4 linked regions of the Homo sapiens genome follow. The protein of the gene in region 3 interacts with the protein of the main gene of each other region in a biochemical or structural test. Each region holds a gene or a part of one and is shown on either strand. Other genes may lie near its edges.

The links.
Region 1: of the proteins of BCAN (region 3) and MMP7, one has a biochemical effect on the other in vitro, tested with the Homo sapiens proteins (one study listed by BioGRID).
Region 2: of the proteins of BCAN (region 3) and MMP10, one has a biochemical effect on the other in vitro, tested with the Homo sapiens proteins (one study listed by BioGRID).
Region 4: of the proteins of BCAN (region 3) and MMP3, one has a biochemical effect on the other in vitro, tested with the Homo sapiens proteins (one study listed by BioGRID).

Annotation. Positions count from the first base shown.
Region 1 is NC_000011.10:102,527,732-102,535,525, reverse strand, and holds the start of MMP7 (matrilysin preproprotein), read left to right. Parts: upstream 1-4,778; 5' UTR 4,779-4,825; coding exon 4,826-4,933; intron 4,934-7,542; coding exon 7,543-7,769; intron 7,770-7,794. UniProt on the Homo sapiens protein: Degrades casein, gelatins of types I, III, IV, and V, and fibronectin. Activates procollagenase.
Region 2 is NC_000011.10:102,777,600-102,785,067, forward strand, and holds the start of MMP10 (stromelysin-2 preproprotein), read right to left. Parts: upstream 3,030-7,468; 5' UTR 2,993-3,029; coding exon 2,888-2,992; intron 2,147-2,887; coding exon 1,905-2,146; intron 1,763-1,904; coding exon 1,614-1,762; intron 1,151-1,613; coding exon 1,025-1,150; intron 1-1,024. UniProt on the Homo sapiens protein: Can degrade fibronectin, gelatins of type I, III, IV, and V; weakly collagens III, IV, and V. Activates procollagenase.
Region 3 is NC_000001.11:156,652,117-156,659,116, reverse strand, and holds part of BCAN (brevican core protein isoform 1 precursor), read right to left. Parts: intron 6,870-7,000; coding exon 6,225-6,869; coding exon of another isoform or gene 6,151-6,224; exon of another isoform or gene 5,645-6,150; intron 2,836-5,644; coding exon 2,728-2,835; intron 2,180-2,727; coding exon 2,021-2,179; intron 1,443-2,020; coding exon 1,360-1,442; intron 991-1,359; coding exon 846-990; intron 575-845; coding exon 384-574; intron 91-383; coding exon 1-90. UniProt on the Homo sapiens protein: May play a role in the terminally differentiating and the adult nervous system during postnatal development. Could stabilize interactions between hyaluronan (HA) and brain proteoglycans.
Region 4 is NC_000011.10:102,840,589-102,848,264, forward strand, and holds the start of MMP3 (stromelysin-1 preproprotein), read right to left. Parts: upstream 3,022-7,676; 5' UTR 2,959-3,021; coding exon 2,854-2,958; intron 2,329-2,853; coding exon 2,084-2,328; intron 1,992-2,083; coding exon 1,843-1,991; intron 1,692-1,842; coding exon 1,566-1,691; intron 6-1,565; coding exon 1-5. UniProt on the Homo sapiens protein: Metalloproteinase with a rather broad substrate specificity that can degrade fibronectin, laminin, gelatins of type I, III, IV, and V; collagens III, IV, X, and IX, and cartilage proteoglycans.

The sequences.
Region 1 (7,794 bases), on a different chromosome or scaffold from region 3:
TTATGTAGCCATTAAAAAAGAGTGAAATTCTGATAAATGCTACTACAACATGAGTAAATCTTGAAAACATTGTGCTAAGTGAAATAATCCATACACAAAAGGACAACTATTGTATGTTGACATTTATAGGATGTACCTGGAATAGTCAGATTGATAGAGACAGAGCAGAGTAGAGATTACTAGTCTGGAGGGAGAGGGGAGAAGAGAGCTATTCGTTAATGGATACAGAGTTTCTCTTTGGGATGGCAAAATAGCTCTCGAAATGGATATTGGTGATAATTATATAACGTTGTAAATGTACTTAATGAAACTCAATTGTACACTTAAAATGGTTAAAGTGGTAAATTTTATATGATGTATATTTTACCAGTTAAGAAAACATAGTTTCCTTCCTTAAAAATAAGTCACTCATAACCTATGGACCAGATCACTCTCATTAGCTCCAGACCCAATTTCCAGCTGAAACCTTGAACCCGATGTCCAGGATGTCCATGATGTCTTTACTTTCCCACGACCACATCTGTTTCCCTCACAAAATCAACTCCTAGTTTCTTTTCCTATAAGCCATGTTTCCATATTAACAGCTTGACCACCCACCAAGTCTATTAGGCTCAGATCATCCTTGATTTTCTTCTCATTCCTGCAGCCAATCATCTCCCCAGTTTTGGTTTTGTTTTGTTTTGTTTTTATCAATCCTACCTTCTACATACGTCTTGGATTTCCTTCCTCTTTTTCATCACTATGGTCACAATCTTAGTTTAGGGACTCATCTTCCCCCTGTCTCACCTGGATTATTGTCATAACTTTTTGCTTGGTCTATCTGCCTCTCCAGTATCCCTCTAGAGGGCATCATCTCATCTTCCACAATCTGTCTTTACAACCACCAGTAGCATTTTCTTACAGCATTTCAAATCTCATCATGCTGCTTTCTTCCTTTAAAACATTCCCTGATGCCCTTGGGATAAAGTCCAAACTCCCTGGCACACGAGGCTCGCTCTCAACAACTTGACCCCCACCTGCTTTTCCAACCACTCACCATCCCGGACCACAGCCACATTGACTGCTCGCTCTACTGTATCCATGCTCTTTTCCCATGTCTTCTTCCTGGAATGCCCTTTTCCAAGGGAACTCCTATTTACCCTCCAAAATCCAGCCAAAATGCCACCTCTTGTATGGATTACTCCTCAGTTCCCACAAGAAGGATTAACTGTTCCCTTCTCTTTGGTAGCTTTGCATATTATAAGCGAGTGTCATTTTGTTTTAAAAGTATTTACCTCCCGATATTGCCACCCTAGAGCACGAGCTTCTAAAGGCTGGAACTGGGACTTGATTCCACTGGGTCTTTTTTCCTAATTACAATTTAGATGAACAAGAGATTTCTTTCTCCTTATTCAAGAGTGAATATTGAAGGAAGTCACTAAAATTAATTTAAAGTGTTTGTAATTTCTAATGCTCTTTGAATTGCTAAAAGTAAACAGAAATGTAAAATACAAAATCTAGAAAATACCTTTTTTAAGACTTTATTTTTTTAAAGCAGTTTTAAGTTCACAGCAAAATTGAAAGGAAAGTACGGAGATGTCCCATATACCTCCTGCCCCCACACATGCATAGCCTCCCCCATTATCAACATCCCTCACCAGAGAGGTACATTTGTTTCTGTGTGTGTGTGTATTTTTTTTGTTTTGTTTTGTTTTTTTGAGACAGAGTCTCACTGTATTGCCCAGGCTAGAGTGCAGTGGCGTGATCTCGGCTCACTCCAATCTCCACCTCCTGGGTTCAGGTGATTCTCCTGCCTCAGCCTCCTGAGCAGCTGGGATTACACGCACCTGCCACAACACCTGGATGATTTTTGTACTTTTAGTAGAGACAGGGTTTCACCATGTTGGCCAGACTGGCCTCAAACTCCTGACCTCAGGTGATCCGCCTGCCCCGGCCTCCCAAAGTGCAGGGATTACAGGCGTGAGCCACCGTGCCCAGCCTATATTTGTTACAATTGATGAACCTACACTGACACATCATAATCACCCAAAGTCCATTGCATTTGTGTTCACTCTTGATGTTGTACATTCTATGTGTTTGGACAAATGCAAAATGACATGAATCCACCATTACAGTATTGTACAGAGTAGATGCACTGCCCCAGAAATTCTCTGTGCTTTGCCTATTCATCCTGCCTATCCCACGTCCAGCCCACACAACTACTGATATTTTTACCTATTTTTGCCTTTTCCAGAATGTTACATAGTTCGAATCATACACTAAGTAGCCCCGCAGATTGCTTCTTTCACTTAATAACATGCATTTAAGATTCTTCCATGTTTATTCATGGTTTCACAGCTCATTTCTTTTTAGCACTGAATAATATTTCATTGCCTGGATGTCCCGCAGTACATGTATTCATTCACCTACTGAACGACATCTTGGTTGTTTCCAAGTTTGGGCAATTATGGATAAAGCTACTATAAACATCTATATGTATGTTTTTGTGTAAACATTTATTTTTATCTCCTTTAGGTAAACACCAAGGAGCACCATTGCTGAATCATATTGTAAAAGTATGTTTCATTTTGAAAGAAACCATCAAACTGTCTTCCAAGGTGGCTGTACCATTTTTCATTTCCACTAAAACATCCTGCAATTGCCACTGTCAGCGTTCTGGATTTTGGCCTTTCTAATTGGTAAGTAGTGGTATCTCATTACTGTTTTGATTTGCATTTCCCCAATGACATATGATGTGAAGAATATTTTCATATGCTTATTCACTATCTGTATATCTTTTTTGGTAAGATGACTGTTAAGGTTTTTGGCCCATCTTTAAAATCAGATTGTTTGTGTTTTTATTGTTGAGTTTTAAAAGATACTTGTATATTTTGGATAACAGTCCTTTATTGGATATGTCTTTTTTTTTTTTTTTTTTTTTTTGAGAGAGAGAGAGAGTCTCCCTCTGTCACCCAGGCTGGAGTGCAGTGGAGTGATCTCAGCTCACTGCAACCTCTGCCTCTGAGGTTCAAGCAGTTCTCGTGCCTCAGCCTCCTGAGTAGCTAGGACTACAGGCACGCATCACCATGTTTGGCTAATTGTTGTATTTTTATTAGAAACAGGGTTTTGCCATGTTTCCCAGGCTTGTCTCAAACTCCTGACCTCAGGCAATCCACTGGCCTCAGCTTTCCAAAGTCCTAGGATTACAGGCGTGAGCCACCGCGCCTGGCCATGGATGTGTCTTTGCATTCATTTTCACCCAATTTGTGGCTTGTGTGCTCATTCACTTGAGGAAATGCCTTTTGATTTTAATTCAATGCAAATATTACCAAAAACGTGATATAATTCCATTTTTAGCTTATTCAAGTAAAGTTCATAAATATTCATTATTCTACAAATATTTATGGTGCACCTTATCACATGTCAAACTCTGACTAAGGATACCAATTACTCTAGTTAAACTGTGACCGTACAGAATCAAGACATCTCTGTAAAGAGAGCAAATTTAATTAACTGATCTGAAAATTTTACCTTTGCTGGCTCACAGTGCTCAATTACCATGTAATTGAAGTGATATGTGATTAATTAAATTTTTTAGCTCCAGCATATTTGGAGTGTTTCCCATGATGTATTAGAGTCAAAAGCCATGGTGTTCTCCCAAGTAATGTATAATATAATAAAAGAGACAGACCTATTACAAAATGAATAGGCAGTGCAGTGGGATAGAAAAAGCACTGAGCTACTATCTGTGTGAGCTGGGAGAAGTATAATAAGTTAAATTATCATCTTGGCCTCACTTTCATTTTTGGTAAGAATGGAGTCATTGGGCTAGAATCTGTAGGTAATGGATTCTTACTGCTATACGTAGAATAACCATTTTGTGTACTAAGGACCAATGCAGCCCTACCTGTAGCTGGGCAGCAGCCAGAGTCAGAGTGATTGGAAGAAAAAAATTGGATCTCCAAGTTGAAGGTCTAGCCTTGGAAGAATCTGTTACTATAAAATGAGAAGCAGAATAAGTAAGCCAGATGAAGAGTTAAACCCGTGCTTGTAGATTTTTGTTGGCTTGGTATTTTTTTGTGTTTAATTCAAGAAGAATTAGAGGCAGTGTTCCCCATTAAGAAAAGACATAAACTGATTAAAAGGAGACCCAAAGAAGGGAATTATCACTGCTCTGCTAAGGGACGTGGAAGGTGAGGGGACACAGCACAGTTGTATATAGAGTGGCCACTAATCCAGCCACACAGCAGCATTTCCATCTGCCTCCTGCCATCTTTCCCCTGTATGGAGAACCACAGGATTTTGGTGATGTTCTATTTCTTGACTTTGGTGACGGTTACAGTATTTGCTTAATTATTATTTCATTATTTACATGTTTTGTGCACTTTTCCAAACCTTTTAATTGTTAAGAATATATGGTACCATGTATTTAAGAATACATGGTACCATATAATAAGAATATATATTTAAGAATATATATTATTCTTTAAGAATATATGGTACCATAATGTCCTGAATGATACCTATGAGAGCAGTCATTTGACTTTGGCAAAAAAATGAGGTTTCTCATGGAGTCAATTTATGCAGCAGACAGAAAAAAAAATCCTTTGAAAGACAAATACATTGTGTGCTTCCTGCCAATAACGATGTAATACTTCCTCGTTTTAGTTAATGAAAAATAACACATACTTTCAAAGTTCTGTAGACTCTAAAAAGAAAGAAAACACTCAAATGAGTCACCTATTTCCACATTCGAGGCTGAGAAGCTATATAAATTTCTGCAGTCACTAGCAGAAAACACCAAATCAACCATAGGTCCAAGAACAATTGTCTCTGGACGGCAGCTATGCGACTCACCGTGCTGTGTGCTGTGTGCCTGCTGCCTGGCAGCCTGGCCCTGCCGCTGCCTCAGGAGGCGGGAGGCATGAGTGAGCTACAGTGGGAACAGGCTCAGGTATGTCACAGCCCACTTACTTAGGGTTCCATTCTTTTGCCATCTGCATTAAGAAATGTGTTTTTCAATTATTTCCCTTCCCATGTTAGCATTGCAGTGGAATTTTCTTTGGGGTGGTTCTTCGGATTATAAAAGCAATATATGTTTTCATCAAGTAGCCATTAAAAGCAGGTTTCAGAATCTGCTCAAATCGGGCTTGAGTTCCAACCCTCCACTCACTATGTAGATAGACTCAGGAAGGTCATCAAACTTCTCTAAGCTTCAGGTTTCCAATTTGGAAGTTGGAGATAAGAATGGTATCAACCAAATGAGGGTGTTGTGAAGCATTCAACACAATACCTGAAACATTGTTTAAATTAAGTTCTTATTTTTATTTATTATAACTTGAGATTCTTTTTCTATAGTATACAGAATATTGCCTCTTAAGATACAACCTGTAAATATACTGTTTGTGTATTTACAATACTGTTTGTAATGGAGATATCTGAAGTCAGAAAACATGGGTAGAAATTACAACTCTCCAACAAGTCAATGACAATAGACAAGGCATTAACATCTGACTTTGTTTTCTCATGTGTCCAGTAGAAAAAATAATATTATGTGTTTTATACCTCATGGGGTATTCTAGTAAGTAAATGAGGTGATAACAAAACCAACTAGCATGTATGTAACAATTGTAGATTATAAAGTACTTATATAGACATTGTGTCATTTAATCCTTAGTTCTATAAAAAGAGGAAACCAAAGTTAAACTGATTAGTGTACTTATTAGTGGTAGAGATAGAAATCAAGGACAAGTGCTTCTGGTTCAAAAATCATGTTCCTTGCAATATGCTTCTTAATAAGCAGTCTAATAAATATAAGCAGTCTACTAATTATTATTTGGTTAACTAATGGGATGATTACTTATAACTATTATTTGTAAATTTAGGCCTTAAGCATAAGAAAAGTCAATTTTTAATTCACATTAACTTAGACTTTTAAAAAGTTCCAGTTATAATAAGTTAGATTGAACCACATAAAGTTACTAGTATTTAACTTTTAAAATCTCCAAAACAGTAGTTTTATATGGTTCCACCTAATGAATTCTCCAGAAAGAGTACTCTGCGTTTAGTTTCTTTACTTAGAGTGAAGGTTGGCAGAAACTTAGTCTTCACTTGGAGGGATGTTAGCTAGGTTTAACAAAAAAACAGGAAAAGTCATCTCAACAAAGCAGAGAGATTTCTTCCAGAGGGTGTCTTGGTAAAGTCTGTAGCTCTAGAAGGGATTAAATGGGTTATTTGTTTTTAAATAAAGGATCAGTTATCAATTGTCATGGATGAACAATAAGTATTTGTTGTATTTAATGAGACAATTGTTGGTAACAGGAAAAAAAGACACAATATTAATAAGATTTCTTACATAAATTGCATATTCCTGGGCGGTCCTAAGACAGGTAACCATTACCATCTACTCCAAATAAACTGCAAATTAGTGAGCCAATGTTTAAATCATTTTAACAACAATATTATCAGGCATCATATAACCCTACACATGTTTCTAATGTATAGAAGTCAGAACACTTGAGTTCAAATACTGGTTCCTTCAGTTACTCACAAGGTGATCTTGTGCAATTTATTTCACTTCTCTGAGCTGTGTTTCTTCATGTATAAAATAGGGATAACAATGCCATACTTGTTTCATAGAGTGGTTATGAGGTTTACATAAAATAAATATGTAAGTGCCTGGCTCTAGTAAGTGCTTAAAAATGTTCCTGTGAGGTTGCTATTGTTGTTAGTTCATTCACTTTTGTTGTTGTTGTATTTGTGCTGCTGGATTCCTATCCTCATATTCAGATACTGAGAAACTTTAGAGAAATTCCCAGGAATCCAACCTTGCATGGAATAAACCTGGGAGTCCTACTGTATACTGCAATCTCCCAAAGTGGGTTTGACTAGAGATTTAACAGCAGAAAGAAGGGCTGGGAATGGAATGAGCAGAAAGAGGGAAAAGAGGACCTAGGAGTCAGGAAAGTCAAGTCCAGTTCTGCTACTAATTTAAGGTGTGAACCTGGGCACATAAATCATTTAGTTGCTATAAGCTTTGGTTCCTTCACCGGATTATTAAATTGAACTATTTAATAATTTCCTAATATCTTTTCCCAGAGCTAAAATTTTAAGACCCTTTAACTTTTAGCTGGAACCGCATCTCAGCTGGACTTTAGATAGGGCTGGTTGACCTCAGATCTCCCCCACAGGGTCTATGATAACACAGAGAATGTCCCAGTCGTACCCCTGAGGACAGACTGGTACATGCTTCCTGATTGCTCTTACACACTTCTAGGCTTTATAAAGTGTACAGTGTAATTCTCCCCAAAACATTTAAATGGATTTTTTAAAAATTGAGGGATTCTTTTCTTTTGCTCACGAAATGGCACGCCAGTGCTTCATTAGCAATATTAAATTTTCTCCTCACTAATGCACACTTATTTTTCTCTGTGACTATGTAATTATTCTGTCTTCAAATCATTATTTGAATTCACAGGAACCAAAGGCAAGAGATATATAGGCTTCTAAGATAAAAGAATATAATAAACAAGAACTATAGATTAATTACTCTCTTTTCAATAGGACTATCTCAAGAGATTTTATCTCTATGACTCAGAAACAAAAAATGCCAACAGTTTAGAAGCCAAACTCAAGGAGATGCAAAAATTCTTTGGCCTACCTATAACTGGAATGTTAAACTCCCGCGTCATAGAAATAATGCAGAAGCCCAGATGTGGAGTGCCAGATGTTGCAGAATACTCACTATTTCCAAATAGCCCAAAATGGACTTCCAAAGTGGTCACCTACAGGTTAGTTTTGCTCTGGCTCATTTTG
Region 2 (7,468 bases), on a different chromosome or scaffold from region 3:
GTGCCATTGGATGTGTACAATCTTTAGTTTAAAACAGAAACATGCCCAATAACAGTTTTCTGCAGCACAAACACAGCTAGATTCAGCTTTTTAAAAATATTATAAAAAGGGTTTTATTGAATTTAGTAGTAGATATTATTTAACCAAGGCTCCAAGAATTGTGCAGAAAAGAACAGTTGTTCAAATAAAAGGCAATCATTTCATGCAACACAAACTTCAGTCTCGTGAGACAGAGTCTCACTCTGTTGCCCAGGCTGGAGTACAGTGGTACAATCTCGGCTCACTGCAGCCTCCATCTCCTGGGTTCAGTGATTCTCGTGCCTCAGCCTCCTGAGTCTTGTACTCAGGAAAGATGTTCTTTGCATTTACATTAAAAATCCCAGGCACTGTCAGAAATAGTGATTATTTCAACAGTGTGTTTCTAAACTTCAGAAGCCATTTTAAAAATTAAATAGCATACAGTTAATTTTAGTCATTATGTTTAGATGTAAAGTGTTTCCAAGCCAATTTAGGGCGAAAAAAACCCATCTAAGCTAGAGACAGTGACATGTTTATTCGAAAAGATGACCTAACAGTTTTTTTTCAGTTCCTGGCATTTTCTCCTGATCTCTACTTTTAAGTAAAAAGGAGGCCAATGAGAAGAAAGAAAGAAAACCTGAGGGCAAATGTTAGGATTGGAACTGGTTTAATGGAATTCATTCTATCCTAATCATCTATCATTAAAGTGATGAAAAACATTATTAATTATGCTGATCCTCAAACCCCCACAAGATCCTGAGTTGTGGAGATGAGGTTGAATGGTTTTTACAATATTGTACTTGGTGGGGGCAAACATGAAAATACAGACATTTTATAAAATTCTTCAATAATGATTGAAACAAACAGTACTTCTGTTTAAAACTCAGGTAATAAAAAAATTCAGTTACTAGTATATTCGATTTATTGCTCGTTCTAGATAATCCAATTATTTTTGGGTAGGATTGGACATTATTCCTGAAATGTTCCCGAGAGGTTTACGACCCACCTGATGCATCTTCTGTCCATTTTTCATCATCATCAAAGTGAATATCTCCATAAAGCCCAGGTCCAGGTGGGTAGGCATGAGCCAAACTGTGTCCTGGGCCATCAAAAGAGTAAAAGTCTCCATGTTCTGATAGGGAACAAATTAATGGAAATATAAGTGTTCAGAATTTCTTTTTACCCTGTTCCAATTAAACAACAGTAGATTCTATAGTCTGAATGTTGGTGTCTGCTGCAAATTCATATGTTGAAACTCAATGCCCAATGAAATATAGTATTAAGAGGTTAGGTCTTTAGGAAGTGATTATGTCGTAAGTGCTCTGCCCTCATGAATGAGATTAGTGCTTTTATGAAAGAAGCTTGAGGGAACCTCCTGGCCCTTTCTATCGTGTGAGGACACAGAAGGTACCATCTATGAGGAATAGGCTCTCATCAGACACTAAATCTGCTGGCACCTTAATCTTGGACTTCCCAGCCTCCAGAATTGTGAGCAATAAATTTCTGTTGTTTATAAATTACCCAGTCTAAGGTAACTTGCTATAGCAGTCTGAACAGATGAATACACCAGATAAATGGATGCTTTATTTGATTACCTTTAACTGCAAAAGAGATCATTATATCAGCCTCTCCTTCATACAGCCTGGAGAATGTGAGTGGAGTCACCTCTTCCCAGACTTTCAGAGCTTTCTCAATGGCAGAATCAACAGCATCTCTTGGCAAATCTGGTGTATAATTCACAATCCTGGAGGAGAAAAATTGAAGAGGATGTTATTTTCTCCTGCCTTTATGAAAAATTGTTAAAGAAAACTTTATGTTACTTATCCAAATATGACGAGTAACTTATAAGGTTTCAATATTATGTGAAAACTAATCTGAACCATTACCTGTATGTAAGGTGGGTTTTCCTCCACTTCGGCATGCCAGGAAAGGAGCTGAAGTGACCAACGTCAGGAACTCCACACCTGGGCTTGCGCATCACCTCCAGAGTGTCAGTGTCTAGCTTCCCTGTCACCTCCAACCCAAGGAACTTCTGCATTCCTTGGATTTTTTTAACAATGAGATTACTGTCCTTTCTTCTAAACTGTTTCACATCCTTTTCGAGGTTGTAGTACTTTTCTAGGTATTGCTAATGGAAAATAGAATTTTTAGGGCATTTTTGTGATTTTCCATCATTTATCCAACTTTTATAATCCATCGTAATTTTCCTCTAGTTTCTTAAAACAAAAGAGGCTATCACATTTAATTTGATTTTTCATTAAGACTCCCCATTTCATACAAATTTTTAAATTTTATTGCAATGTTAGTTTGCTAGTCAAGTAAGGAATTGGGGATTGAAAATTCAAGTCTAGCATTATTTTTGTTAGTTTTTAAAGAAACCCTCTTTTAACATAGTTTTGTGAAAAGTTAGAATACTAACCTTTTCTACTTACATTGTTATTATAGACCTGGTTTAAGACTGAAGTGTGGTAAACTCTTTTGTCCAAATATGACAAGTAAAAATATGAAAACTATTACCTGATATGATTTAAAGATCAAACTTAGCATGCTCCCCTCCCCAATAATTTTAACTAAATAAATTCTAAAGCCAGAGGAGTTTCATATATTCTCCATATGTTCTTTTCACTTAGCCACAAATATACTGCTACTATTTTATTGTAACCTTGAGCAGTTATATTCCCTTTCTGAACCTTTCTTTTCTTCTCTGTTAACATAAAAATAATTTCCACCTCCAGCCTGTTAATTATTCTCTGATGCTACAGTTTTCTAACAAAGTGATCTCTAGTCTAATCATTCTGCTTTGTATTGGAAGACCAAGTAGACACAATTGAGCTGGCCAGTAGCTGCAATAGATGCCACCGTTAATTACCTGGGCAAGATCCTTGTTGGAGTCCTCCTCTTTTGCTGCCCCACTCAGAGGATAGGCAGAGCAGACTGGCAGACACAACAGCACAAGGAATGCAAGATGCATCATTCTCACTGCCCTTACCTTCTTTGTCTACTGGGCTTCTAGCTCTACCCCCTAGTGGCCTTTCTTTTATACAGAGACAATGCTGAGATCACCAACAGTATGATTCATGCATGTGTTTTTTAAGTCTGAATGTTCACAAACATTTAATGTAATGGTGATACAGCCTACATCAGTATTTTCCTTCAACTTTCTAAACTTGAAAGAATGATTAATCCCCAGGAAATGATTTCTGTGTTTGTAAAGACGAAAAAGAATTGGCTAGATAATTCACGTCTCTGTATTTACTTAAAGAGAGCTGACAAGCTTGGTAAAATGCCAAATGTTTTGACATTTTAAAATCAGTGCAATTTTCTTTTAAGAAGATTATGTTTTAAACTTAAATATAAGCAGGTAAGAATTAAGTAGGTCAACGGAAATAAATTCCAAATATAGTCGTGGTCTAAATGTGGGAGTTGTTATTTACAAAGATATTAAAACAAATATTTCACTTCTTGAGTCCTTGTTTACAATAGCTATTATTGATTTTCAGATGGATTTACTGGCCGTGGAGTAGGGGTATTGTGAGAAGGACATGGAGCATGTAGAGAAAAGAATCCAAAGAGAGAAGCTTTGGTGTTCACTCATTCTCCATTTCCCAGTGTATAATTATGTTCAAAGTAACTGCTCCATAAAACTTGTTAAATGGAAAAAATTAAATTGCATGTTAGACTGAAATGGTCCTCCTACCCTCTTCCTCTTCTTTGCTTTTAAAAATTCTTTTCCCCCTTTCTTTCTCCTCTTAAGGTACAAAGGAGGAGATGGATTGAGATCTGTAATGGGAAATGATTTCAAATCCTCCCTTTCTTTCACATGTCTAACGATCCACCCCTGCCCACAAATAGTATTTTCTTTCTTGTTTTCTCAGCCAAATAAAGTGCTTTTTACGCAGTAACACAGTAAGTCTGCAATAACTGTTTTGTCAAATTAACCTGTTAATATAAAGAACCCTGAAATTCTTATAGTAAAGAACTATATTTTTCTCTCACTAAAGATAAATTAACTCTACCATGTCTGAAGTACATAATTGCAAAGTGATGAGAGATTAAAATAATAAGTGTGTAGGAATGATCTTTTCAGTATCGCCCACCATCCCCACCCTACTTAAGGTAGCCTGGACAGGTGAGACTTCCAGGAACCAAGAGGCTCTGAGACTTCCAAGCCAGAGTTGGAGAGAAACTGGGATATACACTGAGCCAGCCAAGTCAACTTGTGACTTACTGTTGCCAAAGAGTTTGCTCTACAGTGTGGTGACATCAGCTTGAATATCAGAGGGAGAAGGACTGACAACTAGACTCAAATAAAGTCAGCTGGACATTGAGCAAGTACAGTCAGGCACTGTATAATGTTTCAGTCAACAATGGACCACATATATGATGGTGGTCCCATATGATTATAATGGAGCTTGATATGGTTTGGATCTGTGTCCCTGCCCAAATCTCATGTCGAACTGTCATTCCCAGTGTTGGAGGTGAAGCCTGGTGGGAGGTGATTGGATCACGGGGGCGGATTTCTCATGCCCATTTAGCACCATCCCATCGGTGATGTTCTTGTCATAGTGAGTGAGTGAGTTATCATGAGATCTGGATGTTTAAAAGTGTGTAGCACCTAGCCCCTCTCTTTCTTCTCCTGCTCTGGCCATGTAAAGTGCAGGCTCCTCTTTTGCCTTCCGCCATGATTGTAAGTTTCCTGAGGCCTCCCCAGAAGAAGGTGCCACCATGGTTCTCATATAGCCTGCAGAACCGTGAACCAATTAAATCTCTTTTCTTTATAAGTTACCCAGTCTCAGGTATTTTTGATAGCAATGCAAGAACAAACTAATACAGAGCTGATAAGCACCCATCAGCTATTGTCATTGTAGCCAACATAATGTCATAGTACAATACATTACCCATGTGTTTGTGATGATGCTGGTGTAAGCAAACCTACTGTGCTGCCATACGAAAGTCTAGCACATGCAATTGTGTACAGTACATAATTCTTGATAATAGTGATAAATGACTGTTTATGCATTTACTATACATTTTATCATTTATTTTAGAGTGTACCTTTTTTTTAAAAGTTAACTGTAAAACTGCTTCAGGCAGGTCCTTCAGAAGGCATTCCATGGTTACTGCCCTATGCAGGCATTATTATCATAGGAAACGACAGCTGCATCAGCGTTACTGCCCTGAAAGACCTTCTAGTGGAACTTGATGTGAAGGTAGAAAACAGTGATATTGATGATCCTGATCCTGTGTAGGCCTGGGCTAATTCGTGTTTTGTGTCTTCATTCTCAAAAAATAGTTTAAAAAATAAAAAAAATTAAAGATAGTAGAAAGCTTATAGGATAAGGATATCAAGAAAAAAATATTTTTGTACCTCTGTGAAACGTTTGTGTTTAACCTAAGTGTTATTACAAAAGAGTCAAAAAAAGTTTTAAATTAAAAAGTTTATAAAGTAAAAAAGTTACTACAGTAAGCTAAGGTTAATTTATATTGATGAAAGAAAAATGCTTTTATAAATTTAGTGTAGTCTAGGCATACAATGTTCATAAAGTCTACATAGTGTACAGATTCACTCACCACTCACTCACTGACTCACTTAGAGCAACTTCCAGTCTGGCAAGCTTCATTCCTGGTTAGTGCCCTATATAGTTGTACCATTTTTTATCTTTAATACCATCTTTTTATTGTATTTTTTAATGTTAAAATATGTGTAGATACAGTAATATTTATTATTATGTTACAATTGCCTCCAGTATTCAGTAGAATTTCATGCTGTATAGGTTTGTAGCCTAGGAGTAATAGGCTTGCTGGGCATGGTGGCTGACACCTCTACTCTCAGCTACTTGGAAGGCTGAGATGGGAGGATAACTTTCCCCAAGAAATTTTTAAAAGGCTATACCACATAGTCTAGGCATGTAGTAGGCTGTACCATAGAGGTTTGTGTAAGTTTAATCCATGGTGTTTGCACAATGGATAAATTGCCTAAGGACATGTTTCTTAGAATGTGTCCCCATTGTTAAGTCACACATGACTGTGTGTAATTAATTCAGGCCATTATTTTGTCATCTGTAAAATGGGGTGGATATAACCACACTCACAAAGTTATTTTGTATGCTTTATGCTGGGGAACAAATCTCTTCTTATTTCACTCCAACACCTTTAACAGACAAAGCTTGTTGGCCTGACAAATCTGTGACAATGCCCCTAGGCCCTGATTTGACAAGCTGTGAGATGCCCATTTTCGCTTGAGTCATAACTTTATTAGTGTTGACACATCCTGTTAATGGATTTTATTATGTGGTAATGATACAATGAAAGTTTACATTGTAGTAATAGCTACGACTATAATTGGGAGCCTATAGGGTAGCACATGCCTCACAGAAATGATGTTAGTGTTTAAACTTGTCCTGCATTAAACCATGACACCTGGTAGAAATTAATGCCCTGGAGCAGGTGAGTCCTATGTTTGTCTTTATATAATTCATTACTTGTTAAACCTACTGAAGTATGTATAGGGTCAGGCAAGGAAGCATACAGAGCTCATACTTAAAGAAAGGTGAAACGCCTGGTATTGAGCTTCCACTGTAGTCAGTTCTTAAATGTGAGTTATTTTTAAACTTCAGAACAACCCAACAAAGTTGAGATTAGAAAAATTGAATAATAAGCTCACGATCAAAAGCTAACAAGTGGGAAGAGATTATTCAGAACTGCCAGAAGAAACCTTCATGACTACAACTTGGATGTTTATCAAAAACTTCTTGGCTTCATTCCATATCTTTGCTATTGTGAATAGTGCTGCGATTAACATACAAGTACAGGTATCTTTTTGACATAATGATTTCTTTTCCTTTGGGTGGATATCCAGTAGTGGGATTGCTGGGTTGAATGGTAGTTCTATTTTTTTGGTCTTTGAGAAATCCTCATACTGTTTGGAATACTATGCAGCCATAAAAAGAATGACGTAATGTCTTTAGCAGTAACATGGATGGAAGTGGAGGTCATTACGTTATGTGAAATAACTTAGAAACAGAAAGTCAAATACTGCATGTTCTGATTTACAAGTGGGAGCTAAATAATGTGTACACATGGATATACTGTGTGGAATAATAGACACTGGGCACTCAAGAGGGTGGGAGGGAAAAGAGGGATGAGAAATTATCTAATGGGGGCACAATGTCTTCTGTTCCAGTGAGAGTTACACTAAAAGCTCAGACTTCAACACTATGCAATATATCCATGTGACAAAACTGCACTTGTACCCCCCAAATATATTTAAAATAATAGTAATAACAAAAGTTTTAAAACAACCTCTTGGCTTGGACCTTGGTTCTTCCCCAGCTTTTTTTCTTTTATGTCTTGACACTGTTCTTTATCTCTCATTCTTTTTTTTTTTTTTTTTTTGAGACAGAGTCTCACTCTGTCTCCCAGGCTGGAGCGCAGTGGCGCAATTTCAGCT
Region 3 (7,000 bases):
GCTGGAAGGGGGGATCAACAGCGCCTTCCAGCGTCCCAGTAGCCTCCCCTGACGTCCTTCTGGGTCCTCCTCTGGGTGCAGAGCTCGGGCCTGGGGAAGACACACACTCACCCTCCACCCTGGCTCTTCCTTCTCCTCTCCTCAGAGCCTGCCCTCTGATGTTCTTGCTCAGCCCGTAAGAGCCCAGAATGGGGCTGCATGTTATCAGACATCAGCACTGAAGGAACCCCAGAGCCTCCAGCCCACCTCTTCCCCTTTGCCTCAGAGAGGGGCAGTGATGGCTCCAAGGTCACATGGCCAGTGACAGGCAGGACTTTAAGTGGAGTCCAAGGCTACTGTTGGCTACTGTCTCCCACTCCCACCTGCCTCTTCCTGGCACTCACAGGTCTTCTGGGCACACAGGAGATCTGGGGGGCCTCCCAACGACCGTTCTCTTGGCATCGGATCAGCGGCAGATTGCGCTGGGCCAGTCCTTCCCGGCACCGGTAGCGAAGCACAGTGTCCACCTCATAGCGCAGCCGTGGGCGGCCGAACACTTGAGCCAGGGGCAGCTCCGGTGGCGGCCCACAGGACACTGCAAAGGAAGACAGTTAGGAACTGAGCCTGGCTCTGTGGGTGACAGTTCCCAGAATCTCCATGGGGAAGAGAAAAATGGGCCACAACATGACAAAAAAAGATCAGGGATTCCGAGTGGACCCACGTAACTTGTTAGCTCTCCCATGGTCTGGAACACGTTCTGACTCCTCTATGTTGCTTTGCACTCTCTGTCTACAAACATCAGTCCCTCTGGTCCCCTAGCCCACCCCTCCACTTCCTTGCTGGGACCCTCCTTTGCCTGCCCTCACCCAGCCCCATCTTGCAGGTGTAGGACAGGTGGTAGTTGCAGGGCACGTCACTCCATTGTCCCTGATCATGCCACACCATGACCACGCAGTTCTCTCCAGACAGGAAGTAGCTGTCAGGCTGCCCAGGGTTCCAGTTCTCATAGAGCTGGGGGAACGGAGGAGGTGGTGAGGAGCTCCTACACCAGGAGCACCGGGAGAGGGCCTAGAGGATCTGGGGAGGAGGGCTGGTGAGCGGGGCCCCAGGAGAGGGAAGGTTAGGGCTAGGGGGTAGGGGATCTCCCGGGGAAGGGGAAAGGAGAGGGCAGGGACTTTAGGGGAGGGAGAATGGGAGCCAGAAGGGAAGAAAGAGGACACAACGAAGGGAGGAGAGCCCAGGGAGAAGAGGCACAGGGCACGAGAAAGGGAAGGAGGCCGGAAAAAGAAGGGGACAGGGTCGGGAGGGGTGGGGGTGGTAGGGAACAGAAGTGCTTAGAGGAAGTGAGCTAGACGGCGGGGTTCGACTGGGGCCTCTCACCAGGGGGACGCCATCCGACCACAAGAAGTCGCCTTCGATGGTCCTGTCGTTGAGTCCGATCCACTGGTACTCCCGGTACCGGTCTAGGGAGACGAAGGCGTGCAGTGAGCGCAGCCGCCAGCAGATGGCGGCCGTTCCCCGCTCCCGGGCGGTCTGCGGTGACTGCCTTGGAAACCCTTCCCCGCGATCCAGCACCCGCCCTTGTCGGGTTCTTCTACCCCAGCCTCTGCTCAAGGGCCAGATGGAAAGCAGGGGAATGGGGGTGGGAGAATAAGGAAGATATCAACCCAGGCTAGAAAAGGGGAGTTTTGGAAAAAGAGTCAAAACTTTCAACAAGATTGGAGTTGGAGTTGGAGGAGGCCGACGGAGGTCGGAGAGCAGGGAGGTTGGAGGGATTGGAGGCGGCCCCCTGCACGGCGGCCCGGCCCACACAGGCGCACTCTACTGCGCGAACCTCCACTCTCCGTTCCCGAAGGCCACTGCCTAAGCGTAGGGTGGGAAGGGAGAGAGAATGAGAAGGGGAGTGAACGAATGAGTGAGGGAATGCACGCTTGAGAAAACCAAGGAATAAGTGCATGGGTTAATGAGGAAGGCGGTTAGGCGAGTGAGAGAGAGTGAGAGCATATGGCAGGGGCCCCTCCCGCCCTGTCTCCCAGCCCACTGTTGATGAAGTCCTGTTCCTCGGGTGTGCTGATGCTGGCCAGATGCGCGCCGTACATCCGGCACTGGGTCTCTGCCTCCTCCCAGCTCCTTCGTGTGGAAAAGTGCTTGTAGCAGGCGCCCTGGAAGGCGTCCCAGCCGGGGTTGCAGAAGCGGAGGCCTGCGGCACATAAGGGCGGGCATCTTAGGGCCCCAAAACCCAGAGGGCCAGGTCCCCTGGAAGGGGCTGGTCTCCTTCCACTACCGCAGGCCGAGAGGGGCGGGACTAAGGGGGACAGGAGGGCGGTGCAAAAGAGCTAGTAGAGAATGAGGGGGTAGCAGGAGCCTGGAGGGGCTCTTGGGCAGGGGCGCTGGTGCCTTTTCTAAGAGACAGGAACCAGGGTGAGGGATGGAGTTCCGGCCTGGGTCTCCATCCTAACGAGCAGTGGCTCTCCTCTCCAGGAGAATGGAGCCTGTCATGTATTGACCACCGATTAAATGCCAGGAGTATGCTTTGCACTGGTCTCAAATGGACCCCCTATGAGAGGCATTGTGGTTTCACTTAGATAAGAAAATTGAGGGTAGGACTCAAAGAAGTTATGCAACTTGCCTAAAACAGGGACTCATTAATGACAAGGCCAAAACCAATGTTCTCCCTCCCCCCTCCAGAAGTAGCACGTTGTGGCAGGGTCCAGGCTTCAAACCTGCCCCCCGTCCCTCAACACTCACCAACATCGCACAGGTCCCCCCCATAGCCAGGCAGACATAGGCAGCGGACCCCTTCCTCCTCCTCCAAGCATGTCCCACCATTGTGGCAGGGGCTGGGGACACAGTCACCTGAGAGGGGGAAAGAAGTGAGGCGGGGGGAGCGAGGCAGCCGCACTCTGCAGCCTGAGCCCTCCAGGAGAGGGTGCAGAGGGTCCCCCAGCCCTGGTCTCTCTGTCCTGGAAGCTATAACAGCACCCTAAAAGTTCTCCCTAGAGCCTGTCTCTGGTCACAACCCAGCCCTGAGTTCTGGGTTTCTTTCCTCTTCCCGCTCCCGACTTCAGCATTGGCTCAGCCTTCCATTGTTATGGCCACCAGTGTGAGCCCAGCCCAAAAGGGGCTGGGGAGAAGAGGCTAGGAGAGCCCTGAGAACCCAGCCCCACAATGGAGAAAGATACTGGGCACAGAAAGTTATAGCTCTAAACTCTTATCTGGCTTCTGTGTGATATTGGGCAGGTCATTTTCCTTCTCTAGGCTTGGAGTTTAGTGCCACACCCCCTTGTCTTTGTGCCAGGTCCCAGCACAGTTCTGTATAGTCCAGGTGGAATGAATGGAAGTGAAGGAGGGGACAGAAGGATTACCGCAGCAACAGTGGAGGGTGGTATCCCTTGACTGCTCCTGAGACCTGATATTGGTGTGGTCCAGGTGAATACTAACCATTCCTCCTGCTGTCCACTGGGCAGTCAGCCAGTCCCAGAAGTGGTTAGTGGAGATCCAGCCCACTTTCCTCACTCTAGGCCCTGCCCCTTCTCCCCCAGCTTAGGAACTAAGTCGCAGCAGCTCCCATTGTCCTGCAGTGCTGACTGGCCTCACACATGCAGCTTTCTCTCAATATCACCCAACCTCTCACTTCCCCTTCTTATATCCACAGACTCTTCCACTTACCAGGCTCCCTCTCCCAACTCCACTTTGGGCCTTCTGCAGGTTCTCCAACCTAGAATCCATCTCAATCCCTCCTTCTGGCTCCCTCTCCTCCAGGCAGTCCTCTTAGACTAACACACTGCCCTGAAGGTCTGCAATCTGTTGCCTGGATCTAGCTCCATCTGGCTAGGCCATCTGCTTTACTGGACTTTTTCTCTCTGTATCCTGGGGTAGGAGGTGGCTGTCCTTAGGATGTGCTTGGGTGCTACAGGAGCTGTCAGTTTCCAATCCTTTCTGGTTCAGATGACCCAAAGGAAGATGGCTCCACAGACCAACTGTGTAGGTCATGGCCCTCAGCCATGGTAAGGTCAAGGCCCTCAGCCATGAGAGGCAAAACCACTCCAGGGCAGAACCCTTCAGACTTTACCATCCACCTCTAGAAGCCATGGCCAAGGTCCACAGTGCTTCCCGCTGGCCTGGCCACAGGTCCCACTGCCTGGTGGGAATCAGTAGGGGTGGAGAGAGGAGAAGCTGGAGTGGATTCAAAGAATTTTGCTGGGATGACCTAGCTGTTTTGGGTGAAATGAATCAGCTTTTCCAGCAGCACTCCTTCTGTCATCTTCCCTCCTGCCAATAGTTTCTTCCCAGCTTGTGGTGCTGCCCACCTCCCAACCCCAGAGGAAGAGGTATTTCATTTAACCCATTAAGCACCAGGCCCCACAGAGGGTAGAATTCTGAACTCCCCTCCCACTCCTCACACTTTCCTGTCCCTCCTGTTGTCCTTTCTGCTCCTTCCCATTCAACCCTCCAACCCTGGGGGACAGAGGCTCTCAAACTTGGTCTTTGGTCCCCTACCCAAGCCATAGGCCCCTCCCCCTGGCTGTGGGCTACAGAACCTGAACCCAGCGCAGGCAGAGTCGGGTGAAGAACTCTTCTTCTTGTCATTTTCCCTCTCCCTTTTTGGGGACAACTATTCTACACAACCAGAAAGTTTTCCCTTTCTTTCCATTGAAACAGCAGCCAAGGAGACCTCTCACTTACCCTCCCGGTGGGGAAACTAAGACACTGTAGATACCTCCAATTGTGCTCCTCTTCCCACCAAACCCCCTCCCTATCCCCCACAGGGCTGAACTCCAAGGCCAGTTGTGCAGGGACCTAACAGTTGACATGGGTAAGCCTGGGTGGGACTCAGGATGTGATCCATCTAACATGGGGGTCCTAGGGCTAAGGGAATCCCAGCCTTCTCCAGGAACCTCCACTGGGAATCTTAGCCTTCCTGAGTAGAGAGGGCTTCTCTCAGACCCCAGAACCTGATTCCTTCCTTCACACTCTCCATCACTTGCTTTTGATCAGTGTCTTCTCCAGCATTAGGTACTTTGAGACCCTTTGGGTCTGGGGAGGGTGAAGCCATTCCTTCTGGAGAGTAGGGAATGATCATTAGTGCAGGAGTTAGTGGAGAAGACGGAAGTTGTAGGTAGTGGGATGAGAGTTAGATACCACCCCCTGCTGAGATGCAGGGCTAGGGGATGGGGGTGAGGGCAACTGAATGCCAGGGAACTGCCTCTATGCTGAGAGACCCTCAGTTCCCTCAGTTACTATGACCCTTGGCACCACCAAGATGGATTGGAAGTGAATATAAATGCACAACACATGCACTCCGGGCTGCAGGGGTTTCTCCTCATCAGGAGTGAGGGACTACAACTCCCAGCACTGCCTCAGACTATGGATGATGACTTCTCCAGGGGTAATGTGTACAGTCAAATTTTGGGATCTTAGCAGCCAGGAAGGAAAGTGTAGACAGGCCTGAGAAGGAGAGGCTGGGGGAACAATGAGGGGCTGTTAGACTGCCAGGACAGACAAGGGGAGAAGCCGAAAATGAAAAAGGAAGAGAGGCCAAGACACACACAGAGACAGGGAGAGACATGGAGCCAGAGAAGAAGCATCCAAGTGCTCCCCATGACACAGACCCATGGAATGAGAGAGGTGGACAGCAGGAGATGGAGACAGAGGGTACCAGAGCTTGGTTACAAAGCGGTTTAATAGAGATTTATTTCCAAGGCTTGTTTTCCATGAAACAGTCAAAAAATACTTCACAGAAGTAGTTGCTTAAGGCTCTGTGGGGGTACGGGTTCTCCTGGACTCCGGAGGTTGAGGGGTGAGAAGGGACTCCCAGGCTTCCCTGAGATCAATAGGAGGCAGCTAAAGGGGACGGCACACAGGCGGATGAAGGGAGTAGTGGAAAATAGGCCGAGCCCTGAAGGCTGCAATAGGTGATGAGGACCCTTGGAGAGGCCTGAGGATGCTCTGTGGGGCTGGCGAGATGTGAGCCACAGGTGGAGGGCCCAATGGCAGGGAAGGGTCACAGATGGTCAGTGGCGGGGCTGGGATCACAGGGTAAAGACGCGGAGAGCTGAGATACCCACAAGGTGGATATCCGAGATTGGAGACCCATAGGTAGAGGTGGGTAAGAGAATGAAGGCAAAGGACAGGAGAGTTTGGGATGATGGTGGGTTAAAGGACTACAGGTCAGGTGACCCAGAGCTGCAGGGGGAAGAAAAGGAGTAGGATAGAGAGGGCAGTTGAGCCTTGGGCAGAATTACCTGATGCGGGGACCACGGCCACTCCACCTCGGCTGGCGCTGTCAGTGGGCAGCACTGGCTGGGCCTGCACTGAGGTCCCTGCTGGGGCAGTTCTTCCAGAATTATCTTCAGAGGGGGCCTCCAGCTCCCTGGTACCCTCAGGGGCCCGTGTGGCTGGAAGCAGGGAAGGGGCACCCTCGGAGCTTCCTGTCTCCTCGCTCTCTCCTCGAGGGACCCCAGATAGCTCAGGACCACCAGTTGCCTCCCCCACCTCTCTTGCCTCAACCAGAGTGGAAGGTGATGGGGATGCTAGGTTCCTCTCCCTGGGAGTGGGCAGAGTCTCAGTAGGTGGTCCATGGACCCTTGGAGGCCTGGAAGCTTCTGACTCTCCATCAGGAAGTGGTGATGCACCAGGCTGCAGGACTGCCCTTGCTGGCGCCTGGGAGAGTGACTCCTCCTGGGCTGCTGGCTCAGTGGGGAGAGAGGCCTCAGGGCCCGGGCTGCTGAGCTCGCTGGGCCATGCCCACAGAGCCTCATCCTCCACCTCCTCCTCTTCTTCTTCCTCCTCTTTCTCTTCTTCATCTTCATATTTCTCTTCTTCCTCCAATGCCTTACCTTCCTCTTCTGAGAACCCCGTGGGCGGTACCATGGATTGTGTTTCAAATTCTAGGCAAAGCACAAACGGTTCAGCACCAGGGACAGCGTCTGTCCAAGGACCGAAAGGAAAAAGGGAAGGGGAGAAAAGTAGGGCTCAGGAGGGTGAGCCCTGGGGAATAGGGAAGAGACCGCCCTGAGGA
Region 4 (7,676 bases), on a different chromosome or scaffold from region 3:
GGTCCCTATTTAAGAAATTGAGAACAATAGTTACTTATTTTTTAAATACATGTGCATTACACAGGTCTGCTGTGCATTGTATTGGTTTTTACTTCTTGGAACCACACAGGGCTTTTTACACCTTGTTTGTTGGTTAATTGAACAATTGACTAATTACACACTTAATGGAAAGCTAAGTGTATTTTAAAACTCATACCTGTAATCAATCTTTGAGATTGATTTCCCAGTTACATCCACTTGCCCCCCATGGCCCCAAACCCACCCCCAGCCTCACAAGCATATTAACTCCAGAAGAACCAGATCCCTTTTCTTGTACTCAGGAATGGAATGAACCCACTTGCTTAGCATATCAGATATTTACCTTCATTTGTCAATGCAAAGCTAAACACTGTTTTAATATATTTACATTTGCCATTTGCAGTCTCAGTTAAAGGAAACTATATTCATGTTAATTGATAATGTCTCAGCCTCATCATCATGAAGTACATATTGAGACTAAAAACATGAATAATGATAGATGTCATAGGATTTGCAAAATTGGTTTAAAACACAGTATGCCCAATCATGTCTAGCATTTGTCACACAACAGATTTAGAATACATAAACACTGGCTTTATTCAAAATTTTTTCCTTCATATTTTTAAAAACACCCATAATGCTAAAATTGGGAGGCATTGGGTAATTATGATCAATATAGTAAGTAAATCTACCTTACTTTTGCTAGTATTACTTGTGTAACTTGTGATGCTAGGAACAATCTCATTTGAGAGTTTGCAGGAAGGTTTCTTTACAAGAATTCGTTAACTCAACCAATCAAGAATTCTATCCAGGACTAAACTCACATTTGTACGTCCTACAGAGGTTTACATTTTCATTATAAATCCCAGTTAAACCTCAGACATAGTATTAATTGTTTTCCTATTTTTTTAGAAGTAGTGTTAATTGTTTTAGCTGATTTTTTTGAAAACTTTGGATGTCATTCCCCAAAACATACAGTTATGAACTGAGAAACATTCTTCTACCTAAACAGTTTGAACGTTGTATTTGGGAGTTAGTCTTTTCCTTCAGAACAAGCCCATAAAAATTCTTTTAACCTAAAAGTACTAAAATAATGCCTCAGCCAGAAAAAAAAAAAAAAGAGAATCTCAGTTTCTGAAATTTAATTCTTATTTCTGGTTTGAAGAGTAAAGAAGTAAATGGAGGAAATTACATAAGTAACATCCAGAGCACATTTTAATGTAGATTCAGTGCAATATACTATCCCTTGAATGTTTGTATTTTGATATGAGAAATTTTTCTTAATAATGGTTACCCCTAGATCACAAAGATCCAGTCATTAAAGAAATACTTAATGATATTTCCTATATTGTGCTTACCAATATAGGAAAACTGTTAAAGCATCTGAAAATATTTTCAATAATAATTAAAACAAAAATATATTCTGCTGATCTCTGATCCACTGGAAAATCCAGAACATCTCATTTCTTGAGCATTCTTGGTTATTAACAGATTTCTACATATAAAAAAATTAATGCCAAAATCATTCTGAGAGATGTGTAACTAACCTGTTGTATCCTTTGTCCATTGTTCATCATCATCAAAGTGGGCATCTCCATTAATCCCTGGCCCAGGGGCATAGGCATGGGCCAAAACATTTCCAGGTCCATCAAAAGGGTAAAAGTCTCCATGTTCTAGTAGGAAAAAAATTTATTGGAAAGATATGTAACAAGGATCCCTTTTGAGCCTTTTCCAGTACAACAACACCAGATAGATGAATGGATACATTTCATGTGTTTTTTGTTTTGTTTTGTTTTGCTTTTTTTTTTTTTTTTTTTTTTTTACCTCTAACTGCAAAAGAGATCATTATATCAGCCTCTCCTTCATACAGCCTGGAGAATGTGAGTGGAGTCACCTCTTCCCAGACTTTCAGAGCTTTCTCAACAGCAGAATCAACAGCATCTTTTGGCAAATCTGGTGTATAATTCACAATCCTGTAGGAGAAAAATTGAAGCAGATGCTATTTTCTCCTATGATATAGTTTATAAAATTCCAATCTTATGTGAAAACCCCTCTGAACCATTACCTGTATGTAAGGTGGGTTTTCCTCCACTTCGGGATGCCAGGAAAGGTTCTGAAGTGACCAACATCAGGAACTCCACACCTGGGCTTGCGCATCACCTCCAGAGTGTCGGAGTCCAGCTTCCCCGTCACCTCCAATCCAAGGAACTTCTGCATTTCTCGGATTTTTTTAACAACAGGACCACTGTCCTTTCTCCTAACAAACTGTTTCACATCTTTTTTGAGGTCGTAGTAGTTTTCTAGATATTTCTAACAGAATAAGTATAGTTTTTAGGTCACTCTTACAATTTTTACTATAGCTATCTATTTATAGTAAGTTTTTGCAGTTGCTCACTTCTTAATCTATTTGGAGTATTTCTCTAGCTTGCTGAAATAATGGCAAATTTTATAATATGATACTAGCAACACAAATATTTAGCTAAAATTACGTTGCATTAAAAAAAAAACTGAAGCTGTTCCAAAGCAAGATATGGTTCATCCACTCTCCACTTGTTACTCATGTGCCTTAAGCCCCAGTGCTGCTACTGCTATGGTGTTGTGTGATCTTAAGAAAACACCTAATATTTCTGGCCTTTGTTTCTTCCTACATAAGAGGAGAAGCCCAAATGGTGTGATAATGAGACCTTTTCCACTTCCAACACTCTATAACTCTCTATTCTTGAACTGTTCCTACACAGTAAGCTCAAGCATTCTATGTGGGTTTTAAGACACACAGAATGGTTTCAGCTTACTCTGGAAGCTCCCCACCTGGCCAGGTCAGTTAGTGTTAATTACCTGAACAAGGTTCATGCTGGTGTCCTCACCCCTTGCAGCTCCATCCAATGGATAGGCTGAGCAAACTGCCACGCACAGCAACAGTAGGATTGGAAGACTCTTCATTTCCACTGGCTTTACTTAGCTCTATGTTGTCTCTATGCCTTGCTGTCTTGCCTGCCTCCTTGTAGGTCCAACCTCGGGAGCGCAGCTTTTAAAGAGTGACAGTGTTTGTTTGGATCACCCGCAGCTTGACTCATCCTTGCTTTCATCCAAATGGCAGCAGGACCATTTCCAAACATTCCAAATTCAAAGTAGGATGATACAACCTACTTTACTAATTTCTCTCAACCTTCCCAATTTTGCAAGGCAACACAGTGATTAATCTCCAGGAAGTGCTTCCTGTCTTGGTAGAGGAGAAAACTGGAGCATTTTTTTTCTTCTGGAAAAATTGACTGGAATTCACTAGACAATTTATGTTTGTCCTTTTGAGAGAAGAAGTAGGTTGACTTGGTAAAAATCAGAATTGTGCAGAACTTCTAAAAGCAGTTTTATTTTAAGAAACACATTATAAAAGCAAATAAAAGATGTAAGTGGAAAGTGTACATACATAGCTATAGTCTATACTATATACAATTATACTCAAAACATAAAAGATAATATCTAGAAGAAATTTAGAAGGGGTGATTTATTTTTCTGAATCTGATTTGTAATGCCTGCTATTGACTGTCGTTGGATTTGCTGGTTCTTGAGGAGGAAAACCTCATGGGCAGAATAGAACAAAGAGGGTCTGTGAAAAAGAAGGAAGTATATTCCCTTTGGGTTGGTTTTAATTCTGTAACCAATTTATTAATGGGTGATGGGCCCACGTAGCTGCTCCATAAATAGTTGTAGAATTGAAATGAATTACATTGCTTACCGGACTGAAATTCTCTCTGTCCTTGTCTTCTACACATGTCTTATTCTCTTTCAACCTTTTCCCCTCCTCCCTAAATTCAAATTAGCAGATGCTTTGAAGTTGAAGAACAGAATCCATCCTAAATTTTCTCTTCATGCTCTTCTGTTTTCTTCCTTTCCTTTCTTTTCTGTTTCTTTGTCAAGTAAAGTGTTGCTCACATTATTGGTGTATAATAAATGCTTGAATGCAAGACTCTAAACATATTCAGAGGAAGACATTTTGTAAAACTTTTATAGTCCTCTTGCCACCTGCCACCATCCATCTCCTCAATGCTTCCCTGATCACCACATTTTGTTTGTTCTTTCTTTCTTTGCTGACTTGCTTATTTGTTTGCTAAAGGGAAGAACATCTTGGGAGTAAGAACTCAGTAGAATGATGGATACAAATGTGCATTTATTAGACCTTTAATAAGTGCCCATTTTGCTTCCTCTCATTTATAACTCTTTTGCATTTTCTTCTTTGCTTTATTTTTTGTGTGTTTCTTAATAAACATTGGAGAGATTTTACCCAATAAGTTTAAAGGGATTTCTCTGTGGCAATAAGATCCCTATGACTGAAGATGCCCACACAGTTGATAGCCACTTGGCAGGGGGCTATACATCACATTTAAGCCTTCATTTTTAGACTAGATTATGTCTAAAGACTTTTTCAAATTTTATTTAAAAAATAGAGACAGAGGTTTCACTATGTTGCCCAGGCTGGTTTCGAGCTCTGGGCTCAAGTGATTCTCCTGCCTCAACCTCTCAAAGTGCTAGGATTACAGACATGGGTCACGGCACCTGGCCTAAAGACATTTTAAAACTAGTATTCTATGGTTCTCCATTCCTTTGATGGGGGGAAAAACCATGTCTTGTCCTGATTGAAATACAGGGAAAATATTTGGCCACATTGATATGAGGACAAGGAGAACAGAGTGGTGGCAGTGATGTGAATTCCAGGAAGAAACAGTGGAGCCCAACAGATAAAATATTGAGAGGTTAAAAGTGTAGAAGCTGTGGCAGCTCTAATTCCTTCTATATTAAGGTTTATCCTTTGTAAATTTTCTCTGGAGTTATAACTTATAAAACATATTTAAAGTTTAGAGGAAAGCCTGATAGATAATATGTTTGCTTTTCCAACTGTTAAGATGTGATTGGCAAAATGGGCCATGCTGTTCCTGAACTAAATACAAAAGTTTGCTATATTTTAAAACAGCTTCGACGACTTCCCTGAAAGATGTTTCCCAAGTCCCAGGAAGAGTCATTAATCATTGTTCAATGGTACCTTGTACCTGCCTCTGCTACTCTATTTTCCACACTGAACTGTAGTGAAATGGTTTATCTGTCTCTCTCATTCTAATGTAAGCTACTTGAGGGTATGGACCATGCCTCATTTGATTCTGTATTCCTAGTACTTAGCATGGTATCTGATATATAGTAGGTAACCAAAAATTACTTAGAGAACTAAATAATATATTAGTTATGAGTGAAAGGCTCATAGCAAATGTCAAACAGGTAAATTAAAAGTCAAAAAATCCAAAAATCATGCAGACATTTCTAGATTTGCAGATTCTACATGTCATATATACTAAATACTCTAAAAACTAAATTTTTTAGAAGTTGTATTTCCACAAGAAAAGATCAAGCTATCATCTAAAATCTCTCTAATATATAATTGAAGTCCTCATTCATATGTCTGCAGAACACTCAAACTAATCTTGTAGAACCAGAAGTTTTCTAACCGTGCATGAGACAGTCAAATTGCATTTTGTAGAGTATGTTTTAAAAATCAATGCAGTAATGAGAAGGAATAGGTAAAATTAAAGAGCAACTGAGTGTAAGAAGGAACGGAGGGAGAAGGAGGGAGAAGAGAAAGGGGGAGGAAGATGAGGAGAGGGGAGGAGGAGAGCAAACACTCCAGGTGTAGAGGGAGGAACTGAATACTAGCGGAAAAAAAGTGGGCATTTCCAGCAAGAAATCAAAATGACTGTTCCACAGAACAATCATTTGTTATATGGTTAAATAAATACAAGGGTCAGATAATGGCTAGTTTTATAAATCTGACCTCCCAGGGATCAGCGGCTTAGAATTAAATTTACATTCAATCTAATCCTTGGATTTAAAAACTGGCAGTGATCCCAGGTAACATTCTATCTCGTAACTTTTCACATTTGTCTTCCTATTTGTCACACTTCTCCATGACTAATCAGACATGATTGTGCAGGATCCTTGCTACCTCTAGCTGATAACTGATATAATCATTATTTCAGCTATACATTCATTTATCAAGTATCTGAGTCTCAAGGGCTTCAGAATACCCAAACTAAGAGTATAGATTTGGAGATAAAGTTTAGAAAATTTTAGTAAAAAAAAAAAAGTGAACAAACTAGCTGTTTAAAAGCAGGAAAGAAAGAAGAAAGGAAGGAAGGGAAGGAGGTATAGGAAGGAAGGAAGGGAAGAAGGTAGAGGAAGGAAGAAAGGAAGGAAGGAAGAAAGGAAGGAAGGAAGGAAAAGAGGGAGGGAGGGAGGGAAGGAGGGAGGGAGGGAGGGAAGGAGGGAAGGAGAGAATATAACCTAGCCAAGGAAAGAATCCCCTATATAATTAATTCTATAAGAAATAAGCCTGGTATGGTGGCTCCTGCCTATAACCTCAGCACTTTGGGAGACTGAGATAGGAGGACTGCTTGAGCCCAGAAGTTGAAGACCCACCTAGGCAACATAGGGAGACCTCAGCTCCACGAAAAAATAAAAATAATTAGCCACTTGTGGCAGTGCACACCTGTAGTCCCAGCTATTTGGGAAGCTGAGGCAGGAGGATCACTTGAGCCCTGGAAGTGAGCTGTGATGGTGCCACTGCACTCCAGCCTGGGCAAGAGAGCAAGACCCTGTCTCAAAAAAAAAAAAAAGTAAAAAGTTGTACACGAATTAAGCAGAAGGTGCTTGCTTACTTTAGGTGTTTCCTTTAGAAAAAACTCATAGATAAAGTAGCAGATAAAGTGAGCCTGGAATGATCTGGAAATGGAGGAAAATTGCTTCTTGGCCTTTTGGCTAAGAACAAGGGTGGAAATGGAGGAAAATTCAGTAACAGAGTATACAAGTATGCAGAGTCAAGAAAGACTCTATATGGAAAACGTCAAAGAGTTACTTTTTATTGAAATAAAAGGTATGTGAAGGGTAATAATGGAAAATAAAAAATAAAGTTGTGAAAAGATAGGTTGGAGTCCAGTCATAGAAGACCATTAGTCTGTAGCTAAGGTGCTTAGAGCTTATTCCATTGTTGGTGGAAAGCCATGTGATATGGTCTGGCTGTGTCCCCAACCAAATCTCATCTTGAATTGTAACTCCAACAATTCCCACATGTCGTGGGAAGAACCCAGTGGGAGGTGATTGAATTATGGGGGTGGGTCTTCCCTGCGCTGTTCTCATGATAGTGAATGAGTCTCATGAGATCTGATGGTTTTAAAAATGGTAGTTTCCCTGCACAAGCACTTTTTTTGCCTGCTGCCTTCCACGTAAGACATGACTTGCTCCTCCTTACCTTCTGCCATGATTGTGAGGCTTTCCCAGCCACGTGAAACTGTAAGTCCATATTAAACCTCTTTTTCTTTCCAGTCTCTGGTATGTCTTTATCAGCAGTGTGAAAACAAACTAATACACTAGTTTCTACAAAACATTTTAAATAAATTTTACATACTTAAATAAAACGTTAAATGTTTATTATAGAAAATTTAGAATATATAAAAAAGTACAAAGAAGAAAATAAATCTTTTATAGTCATGACCCAAAAAGAAAAACACTACTAACAGTATTAACTATGTATTTCCTCTAATTTCTTTATACCTGTGTATTCTTTTTCACATCATGCTGATCATGGGAGTTTATAAAATTTCATCTATATTTTCCACAAT